Regions from separate parts of the Homo sapiens genome. Here region 2 is linked to region 1. Evidence: fine-mapped expression QTL. A gene starts in region 1. The other region holds a variant in brackets. All regions are shown on one strand. Distances are between the middles of the regions. Region 1 holds the start of MPC2 (mitochondrial pyruvate carrier 2). Region 2 overlaps GPR161 (G protein-coupled receptor 161).

What was found. PIP is the estimated chance that this variant, and not a neighbour inherited with it, causes the effect.
Region 2: its variant is the best candidate, but not a certain one, in a credible set for the expression of MPC2 in lung (GTEx, PIP 0.53).

The regions. Positions count from the first base shown.
Region 1 is chr1:167,934,866-167,940,243 of GRCh38, reverse strand. It overlaps MPC2 (mitochondrial pyruvate carrier 2), which reads left to right and starts at 3,172. Exons shown (of 6, transcript NM_001143674.4): 1 at 3,172-3,305; 2 at 4,346-4,511. The coding sequence starts at 4,403. DCAF6 (DDB1 and CUL4 associated factor 6) reads right to left here and starts at 3,561. Exons shown (of 22, transcript NM_001198956.2): 1 at 3,236-3,561. The coding sequence starts at 3,332. RefSeq lists silencers at 3,156-3,395, 3,426-3,495, 4,096-4,265 and enhancers at 3,676-3,985, 4,436-4,545.
Region 2 is chr1:168,123,019-168,128,396 of GRCh38, reverse strand. All of the region lies in intron 1 of GPR161 (G protein-coupled receptor 161), which reads left to right. Among named protein-coding and RNA genes, the nearest start is that of GPR161, 11 kb to the left of the region's middle. The variant G/A (reference allele first, on the strand shown) is at 2,926.

The DNA.
Region 1 (5,378 bases):
CTCTAAGTAAACATATCTTTTAATCATAAATAACATCTGGGAAATTATTCATCTTCATTCCCACAACATAATAGGAAGTTTTCTGAAGTATAATTTTCTTTGATGGGAAGAAAGGAGATAATTAATCAGTTTAAGTAAAATCAATTACAAAGCTTGAATATTAACATTGAAAGGGCACATGCTATGGTGAAATAACTGGAAATGTAAAGGCTACAAGAAAAATTTATCTATTTGTTCTATCCCAATTTTACTATTTAGCAGTAATTCACTGCTAAAAAATCTGTAGAAATACAAATAATGAAAATGTATCAGAAAAATACTTAAATCTACAACCCTGTAGATAGACAATCGTAATGTTTAAATATTGAAGTCTTTTAAAAAAGGAATCTATTTCCTTAGGAAAATCCTAACTTGGAATTTGACTTTTAAAAGGAAGGCTTTATAAGTGTACCATACTTTATTTATTTATTTATTTATTTATGACGCAGAGTTTCCCTCTGTCGCCCAGGCTGGAGTGCAGTGGCACAATCTTGGCTCACTGCAACCTCCACTTCCCAAGTTCAAGCTATTCTCCTGCCTCAGCCTCCCAAGGAGCTGAGACTACAGGCGTACGCCACCACTCCCGGCTAATTTTTGTATTTTTAGTAAAGACCAGGGTTTCACCATGTTGGCCAGGCCGGTCTCAAACTCCTGACCTCAAGTGATCACCCACCTTGGCCTCCCAAAGTGCTGGGATTCCAGGCGTAAGCCACCGCGCCCGGCCAAGAGTACTGTACTTTAAAAAGTCATTTTATCTAATAATAAAAATAAAATTAATAATAATGATAAAGTCATTTTATCGCCACACACAAAAAAAGATGGTAATTATGTGACATGATGGATATGTTAATTAACTTGATTGTATATGAAGTTATCAAGTCCTACACCTTAAATATAACAATTTTTAATTGTCAATTATACCCCAATAAAACTGGGAGGGAAAGTCATTTTTTAAAAAAAACCATCACTAATTCAAACATTACCAATGTGGATTTTGCTGCTTCCTGAATGCAAAGCCAGGATTAGCACTGTAGTATAGAAGAGCTGAATAACAGTGTAAAGGTCTACTAAGGGTAAAGGCCAATAAATTAGTTCTTTGCAAACATTTTCAAGTTTCGATACTTTCAAAAAGTATTTTCAAGTACTTAGAAAACCACTTTTAAAGGAAGTCATTCCAAAAATGTCCTATTTTAAGAGTATATATTATCATATCTAAAATATTATTTAAGATAAAGAACTCCCTGTATGTATACATACACATTTGAAAAACTGTAATTCAGGCTTTCTAATATAGTCAGTGAACCCTTCAATTCCCCTAGACCCAATACACAAATTCCATTTCCATTAGGGAGTTGGAGTAGGAGGGGGAAAAGCAGGTATATGGTTTTGTTATATTTTAATTAACTCGTTTGTAGATATAGCTGAAGTAACTGAACCAAAAGAAAACACTAAAATATAGAACTATATACAAGTACTTAAACTGTCCAACTGAGATAAAGGACCAAATTATAAATGTATCCATGCAAAACAATGTTAACGTTTGTTTTATTAAGCTAAAATTAAGTTCTTTCTCCGCAAATAAATTCTAAAAGAAATACTGCACACTTTTTTTGGTAAATAGTTTTAAAAACCAGACTCCAGCTATGTTCAATTTTAAAATGATTAATCACCACTCTAGGTACTTATCCTACAACAAATGCACAGAAGCTTGTAGAATGATGTTCATTAAAATGCTGTAAGGGCGAACGTCTACTTAAAGAAGAAAGGTTGAGTACCCTATGGTACTTCATAATGTTACCTACTATGTAATAATTTAAAAGACAGAATCAATCTATTTTTACTGCCATGGAAAGATCTCCAAAATGTGGAGAAGTGAAAACAATGTTTACAATATGACACCATGCACTCAGGTGTCTCTCTCATACACACACAAACACACACACACCCCAGCATTTGTACATGTACATATGTACTTGTAAGAATGCAAACAAAAAGGTCTGGAAGAATATTCAGAAAACAGAAAATATTATTTCTAAGGGTGGCGGAGTGAAATTGAATGGGAGGGATCAAAGGGATTTTTGCTTCATTTTTATTGAGTTTTTATAAACAAAATGTATTCGTATTTTACTTGAGACACTAAAAAGAATTAAAAAATTGCATGCTAACTTTTCTTAAATAATTTACAAACCAGAACTGTTGGTTGTAATGAGATTTCATTTTCTTCTCTTTACTTGAAATCAAAAACAAATGAGAGCAACAAACACTTTTTAACTAGCAAGTGGCAAAACTGGAAAGAAAAAAATTTTATGATGTTGTTTGCCGTATCTCCAAATAGAAAGAAAGAGTAATGAAGAGTATACAGGAAGAAACAAAAAAGACCTTTACTAAGTACGTCCATTTTTAAGAAACCAAACTTTTTAGTTGACTCGGGCGTGACCTAGAATCCTCAAAAAAAAAATGTTATGCAAAACGAAAAAAGTGGAATACTGTTCCCCCAAGTACTGAAGGTTGTTTTTAGAAAGCTTAACTACGAAACTGTAAATGCCAAGTGTGTTTTCCAGGGGTGGGAAGAGGAACGTGAAACCCTACACCACCTTTAAGCGGTCAAAACGAACTGAAGAGCAGAGTGGAACTGGGAGAGCGCGCGGGGGTGGGGAGAGCTCAGCTATCACTTTTAGGTTTTGGCTCAGCGCCGCAAAAACAGTTTACACGGATTCTGTCTGGAGCGTGAAGTCCCTGAGGGTGGTCAACGCGTCGCAGCCGACACCTAAACCCTCTGGAGATTGAAGGAGAGGGTGGGCAACAACTTAGGTTCTTCGGCTGAGCGGGGAAAGCGCGCTGGAAAAGAGCAAAAGAGCTAACTTTTGCTCTAAACGCGGCAGCTCCTGGAGGTTCCGCAAGTCTCCCGAGTCCCAACCCATCAGCGACCCCAACACCTTTACAAGCCAGTACCTTCTGCCCACGGCCCGGCCCTCCGAGAAAAACCCAGCAAGGGCGGCGGCTGGCAGCATGCACAGGGGGCTTGACTGGGGGAGGCACCGGCACGGAATTCGGCAACCAAGGCCCCACCCAACACCCCAGAGTCTCCGGGCGCCCCCACCGAGACGCCGTCCCACCTCCAACAGACCCGGCAGCGTGCCCCCTCCCCCACTCTAGGCGGCGACCTCAGCGCCTCCGCCCCGGGGCCCCCGCTCACCCAGGTAGCGACTCCGCAGCCGGGACGGGTCCTCCAGCCCGAGGGACCTTTTCCTCACGTCCCACAACAGGTGTGGGTAGGAGCCACCCCGAGACATGGCTCTGCCTGAGCCGGGTGGGAGGGGAGACCACCGCGTGGGGGAGGGGAGGAGGGGGAGGGGACACCCGTTTCAACACCCGAGCCGCACCGGCACCATCCGCGCGCCGGGCCTCCAGGGCGCAGCGTTAGATGGCGGTGGCAGCAGCGGCGCCTGGGCCCCTGAAGCCCGGCCGCACCCGGGCCGGAGCTCGCCTCATACTCTCCTTCTTAGACTAACCAGAACATCCAAAGATCAGCAACAGTCTCCTCCCTCAGCCCCCCTCCAACAGGAGGAGGCGGAGGCGGAGGCGATGGCGACTCCTCCCTCTCCTCGTCCTGGATACCCTCCCCGCCAACCCTTTCTCGCGAGATGACGACCACCCTGGGGACTGAGGCTGGTGTGTGCTGCGGCTGCCCTCACCCTGGAAGAATGCATTCGGGCCACTCTAACCAGATCCTTAAGTCGCTAGGGATAAAAGACGAGTAGAGAGAGAAGCTACTCAATTCTGTAGTCTCTCGCTCACGAGTCTCCAGTGAAAAGAAGCAAGAGAATTGTGCGGCATCATCTTTAGGCACTGAAGGCCCAAAAACCCATTTTAACTACGGGCCTGCTTAATCAAAGTGAAAGGGCAGTAGAACCAGCGCAGCTTCACTTTCCCTTCTCCAACATGGCCTCGAGGGCATGGGGAGAAGGAGGAGGTTTCCGCTCGACCCCGCCCGCGCCTCGGGGCGGGCCAATCATGGCGGGCAGCTCGGCCTGCGCAAGCGCGCTGCCAGCAGGGCGCAGCGCAGACTTGGTGAGGTGATTATTTTGGCACCTGTTGCCATGGCTCCTCCCTCTCTCCTGCCGGGGGCCGGAGGCGGACCGGGGGCTGGCAGTCGGCAGCCTCCGCCCCCTCAACCTTCGCGGGGCGCGGGCCGCAGCTTTTCGGTTCACAGCGGGCAGGGAAAGCCGCGGGAAGGGTACTCCAGGCGAGAGGCGGACGCGAGTCGTCGTGGCAGGAAAAGTGACTAGCTCCCCTTCGTTGTCAGCCAGGGACGAGAACACAGCCACGCTCCCACCCGGCTGCCAACGATCCCTCGGCGGCGATGTCGGCCGCCGGTGCCCGAGGCCTGCGGGCCACCTACCACCGGCTCCTCGATAAAGTGGAGCTGATGCTGCCCGAGAAATTGAGGCCGTTGTACAACCATCCAGCAGGTAATGGACCCTGAATGGCTCCTTATCGAGACCTTCCTTCTCGCTTCCTCTAAAATGGACCTTTTAGAGGCCCTCTGACAACTGCCTCTAGAGGCATCCACAGCCCCAATCCCTTCCCTTCAAGTGAAGCCGTCTACTCTCCTAGCCTGTGCATTTCACCCTCTCTCCTGCAACATCTCTTCCTAAGCCAACGTATCTCAAGTCAGCTCCCTTCCCCACCTATGTGACATCCGCTCCCTTACGCACGACTCCAACCCAAACCTGATCTCCAGATTTGAGCCTTCTCAACTTCTGCGGCCACCAAACTGTCTGGGGCCACCATGAAACACTCATTCTCTTTCTCTTTTCGAATTGTGGCATATTAACCCACTCTAGGCAGAGCTGGATGGGTGGTTTGTCGCACTGTAGGGTTTGGAGTAAAGGTCACTTTCTTCAGCTGCTGCTGGCAGAGGCCTGCAGACTGAGCCCTCCCCCAAACTGCATGCTTTACTTCATCCAGGCTTGAGTCAGTGTCATTTCTCATCCCATAGGTCCAGTGTGTTTTTTTAAGTCTATCCTTATTTATGAAATTGTTGAACAAGCTCTACCCAGAGCTTTTTGTGTGGACAGACCTGGATATCATTCTCTTCTACCACTTATAGTTGTGACCTTGAGCAAAAGCCTAGATCTCTGTTTGTGTAATACGCGGTCTATGAGAATGACAGATAACATATGTGCTTGACTCTTTGTAAATGCTCAGTAAACGTTACATCTCTCTTTGCCTACTGGAAAACTGTGTTCTTGTGGTTGAAAAAAAAAACTGTAAGAAACTGAAAGATTCCAATCCCTTTATTAAAGATCTAGAATTCTGTTACCTCTTCTATAAAG
Region 2 (5,378 bases), 190 kb before region 1:
AGCCTTAGGTGCCAATAGCATCCCCCAGGTGTGACAACCAAAAATGTCTCCAGGCATTTCCAGAGGTGCGGGATCTGGAGAATGGGGATTGAGAATCAGTGATGTAGGATAGTGAGGTAGGGAGTGGGTTTGATTATTATCCAGTGTCTACTGCTTGGATATTTTCAGACCCTCCCCAGCTAACCTCATTCTTTTCACTGATATCATTTCAGCTCTTCTGCTTAAAAAGAAAATATATGCAATTTCAGGGAAGGGGTTTTGAGCCAAAGGAAGCATGGAATATCAGCCCCACAGTTACAGGTGGAGGTAAATTAAAATTTCATATTTCTCAGTCAGCTGCTTACCTGGGTGCCCACAACCCTCAGCCTGAGCATCTGTGTGGTAGCTGCAGCAGCTCAGTTCTGGGAGGGGGCATCTTCCTATAGTGGGGCTTTAAATCTTCAGGCCCTGAGCCCCTTATGGAGTCAAAGACACTTCCACTTTGCATTCTCTTGCAATGCATCTTTTCTGTCTTCCATTTCATCTCTTCCGCATCAACAAGTAGTTGATATGCTCTGGCTGTGTTCCCAGCCAAATCTCATCTTGAATTGTAACTCCCACAATTCCCATGTGTCATGGGAGGAACCCAGTGGGAGGTGATTGAATTATGGGAGCGGGTGGGTCTTTCTTGTGCTGTTCTCATAGTGCATGAGTCTCATGAGATCTGATGGTTTTAAAAATGGGAATTTTTGCCTGCTGCCATCCATGTAAGATGTGACTTGCTCCTCCTTGCCTCCCAGCCATGTGGAACTGTAAGTCCATAAACCTTTTTCTTCCCAATCTTGGGTATGTTTTTATCAGCAGCATAAAAACAGACTAATACAGTAGTTGAATGAAACCTCTCTGTCTTTAACTAAATTTTTTTTTTTTTAATGAGATGGAGTCTCACTGCATCACCGAATCTGGAGTGCAGTGGCGCCATCTTGGCTCACTGCAATGCCCACCTCCTGGGTTCAAGTATTCTCCTGCCTCAGCCTCCAGAGTAGCTGGGATTACAGGTGCCCACCATCATGCCTGGCTAATTTTTGTATTTTTAATAGAGACAGGGTTTCACCATGTTGGTCAGGCTAGTCTTGATCTCCTGACCTTAGGCAATCCACCTGCCTCAGCCTCCCAAAGTGCTGGGATTACAGGTGTGAGCCACTGTGCCCGGCCAGCTTGAATTAAAATTTGAAAGGGAAAAAAAGAATTGAGTTTTCTTTTCATGTCTTAAGTAATTTTTGTAAACATTCCTTGAGTTTATCTTCTGACAACCTTTTTGCTCGTACTTTTACCCTCATTACCTCGTAGATTCCTCTTGGCAGTTGTATAAAGTAGAGTATATCTACTCTCTTTTTTGTCTTAGGAGAAATTGAGTCTCAGAGAGATTAAGAGACACACACACAGTCACAGGGAATTCAGACCTGGGTTTGGTAAAGATTCCAAGGCCCATGTTCTTTCTATTCGATATCAGGTTTAAGTGGATATTAGTGTAGGGGAAATATAAAATATTTGTTTTCTCCACATGCAGAGTGCTGTTGGGAATTCAAAGGGGAAACTGAGGAAGCATTCATAAGCTTTCTGGAAGGGAAAACATCCTCACCTAAAATAAAAACTTGTATTATGGCCGGGTGTGGTGACTCATATCTGTAATCCCATCAGTTTGAGCAGCCATGGTGGGCGGATTGCTTGAGCCCAGGAGTTTGAGACCAGCCTGGGTAACATAGCAAAACCCCCTCTTTACAAAAACAGTACAAAAATTAGCTAGGTGTGGTGGCACACACCTGTAGTTTCACCTACTTGGGAGGCTGAGGTGGGAAGGTCACCTGAGTCCAAGAGTTCGAGGCTACAGTGGGCTGTGATCACGCCACTGCACTCCAGGCTGTGACAGAGTGAGACGCTGTCTCAAAAAAAACAAAACAAAACAATACTTGTATTATGAGAAGACATGAATGTCTGAAAGGACAACTAAAATATAAAAGGCAAACCCTAGACCGGAGGAGATGGTAAGGGTCATTGTAAAGGTAGCATTTTCTGGAAAGGCCTCTTCAGAGTTCTTAAGGTGGTCTAGAGATAGACGGTGTTCAAATAAGTGGCAACAAGGAGGTGAGTGGCCAGCGTAGGGAATGGCTTATGGTGGTAACCTCTGAGCTCTCCCAGGCTGCATGCATCCTCTCCTGCCCTATAGTGTCACTTCAGCTGGAGAAAATGCTCAGTTACAGAAAGCTGCTGTGAGTGAATGACAACATAAACAAGGAATTTGAATTCTATTGACCGCAATAGCATCTATAGACGTTTTCAGAATAATAGTTTACATATGTGTGTAACCTCATTTATTTGGTCTTCAGACAGCTGGGGGTATATTTGGTTGGGAGACCCTTCACAGTAGCTGCCACCCACGGTTTGGGAATGCCTGACTTAGAGGATGTGTCATAGTAGAGTTTATAGGGGAAATAAAAATAGGGCCGGGTGCGGTGGCTCACGCCTGTAATCCCAGCACTTTGGGAGGCCGAGGCGGGCAGATCATGAGGTCAGGAGTTTGAGACCAGCCTGGCTAACACGGTGAAACCCCATCTCTACTAAAAATACAAAAATTAGCTGGGCCTGGTGGCGGGTGCCTGTAGTCCTGGCTACTCAGGAGGCTGAGGCAGGAGAATCATTTGAACCCGGGAGGTGGAGATTGCAGTGAGCTGAGATCACACCATTGTACTCCAGCCTGGACGACAGGGTGAGACTGTCTCAAAAAAAAAAAAAGGGGGGGGAAGCAAGATAGTCAAGATACTGTACATGTTATGCAGGCCTGTGCAAATATCTTCTGCACTGACACCTACGGTCTCTTCAAAAAAATTCATATTTTCTGGAGTTGGCCTTTTGAAAGATTCTAATGAAAGTCTTTCAGTATAAAAC[G/A]TATTTGTCTGCACTTATATATTGGCCTTTCTGATGGTATAAAATCCAACAGGACTCAACATTCTTGTTTAAATTTTTGTTTAAATTCAGCAGTTTCCCTCCTACAGCTTAAAACATATTAAATCCTATTCTGGGACCTAGACTATTTCAAGGGTCTTTGTTTCCTGGAACAAATCAGCACTCCCCAAAGGCACAGGAGGAAATGACTTGTATCTGACAGAGTCTGTACTCAGAGAACTTTGCACTGAAGCCCTCCCTCAGGATAGTATTAGCTTTTACTTTATGCAGACCTTTAATACTCTTGACAAGGGAAACTGCAGATAAGTATACTTTTATAGGGAAAAGGGGGCAGCTGAAAGTTGAAAGAAATTACGGAGAAAGTATAAAAAGGAGACAGAGAATATGCAATACACATTTGATGTAAGAGGAGAACATTCTGGTTATTAGTCCATTTTGTGTTGCTATACAGGAATACATGAGGCTGGGTAATTTATAAGGAAAAGAAGTTTATTTGGCTAATGGTTCTGCAGACTGGACAAGAGTCATGGCGCCAGCATCTGCTTCTGGTGAGGGCTCCCATGGCAAAAGGAGGATCAGGCATGCCACACAGCATGAGAGGGAGAGGGAGAGCAATGGGAGGAGTACCACACTTTGCATGAGCTCATAGAGCAAGAACTTATTACTATGGGGATGGCACCAAGCCTGCCCCCATGACCCAGACACCTCTAGGCCACACCTTTGACACTGGAGATCACATTTCAACATGGGATTTAGAGGGAACAAATATCCAAACCATATAAATGACCTTTACCAGTCTTAAGGGAATCACTGTGTTTTGGATCATATAATAATGGCTCACTGTGATAACCCACTAGCTGAGTGACTGTGGGCAAGCTAACAACCTTCTCTGAGGTTCCAAAAGAAAATGCTTCCATTAGAATTGCTCTCTAAGGTTTTTCCCAAGTCAAAATTCCACGTATCTTGGCATTTAATGACCTCAAATTATTATGAAAATTATGTTTTGTATACCTTATTTTAAAATACAGAAAAATGTGTGATAGATTTTCATGAATTTTGCTTAAAGGCTTAAAGAGTTTGGGTAGTTTAAGGTGGAATTAATAAAACTCGACCAATTCAGAAAACTCAGCTATCTAGAATGGAGCATTTCCTGAGGATTAGCTTGAGTGTTAGTGCATTTTTGAAAGGGAAATTGTAACTGGACACCCTCTCCTTCCAATGATGAGAACGTTTGATTTTATTTGGAGTTATCATGGGAAAAGGGATACAAGTTAGGGTTGCAGCAGTGTTTGCCCTGGGGGTTGAGGAGAATGGGACAGGGTGGATGGGAGAAGGAGATAGATGGGCAGATGAAGACGTGGTGGCACCAATCCTTACCAGCAGCTGAGCTGACTGCATCATCATATTCATCACAGCACAGTTTGCCTTCCTCAGCTCCTCTCTTCTCACTTTCAACCTGTGTGTCAAGTTAGGATTGCTTTTTACAACATGCGAAGGCAACTCTGCTACAGGACTTAACCAAAAAGGGGTTGACTAGCTGGGGCTGGGTGTAGTGGCTTCACAGTTCATTAGGTAGCTTGGGCTGCTTCAGCGTCAAACAGACTTGGAACAGCCTTGGGCAGTTCTGATCTTTTGTGACCCAGCTTCACCTTAGGGATTTTCTGCTTTCTATTGCATGGGACTTCCAACTACATGGTCAAAAAATGGCTCTTCACGTTCACCTTCAAGCATTGACTTTGAGTTCCAGTCAGGAGAAAGGGAAAGGAGAAGGGTAAAAGCCACAGCTGAGTCTGTCCCTTTGTATTGGAGAATGGATAGCTTTCCACCACTTTGCAGACTGGGTCTAATGGCCACTCCAGCTTCCATGCAAACAAGTGTGTGTGTGTGTGTGTGTGTGTGTGTGTGTGTGTGTGTGTATGTATGTGCATATCTATATCTATATCTATATAGATAGATATAGATAGATAGATAGACAGATACATACATATAATTTTTTGAGACAGGGTCTTGCTCTGTTGCCCAGGCTGGGGTGTAGTGGTACAATCATAGATCACTGCAACCCTGACCTTCTGGGCTCAAGCCATCCTCTTCCCTCAACCTCCTGATTAACTGGGACTACAGGTGTGCATTACCATGCCTGACTAATTCTTTATTTCTTTCTTTGGTTTTTAGTAGATACAAGATCTTGCTATGTTTCCCAGGCTGCTCTTGAACTCCTGAGATCAAGCAATTTTCCTGCCTTGGCCTCCCAAAGTGTTGGGATTATAGGCATGAGTCACCATTCCTGGACCAAGCCCATATATTTTTGTAGGCACATTTGGTACCCCACGTGAAATCAGGGTTCTTTTGATAGAAGAGGAGAATGGATGTTGGCTGGATAATGAATAGTGTCTGCTACTCTTCTGCAGAGTAAACAAGAAATGCCTAGTGTGTCA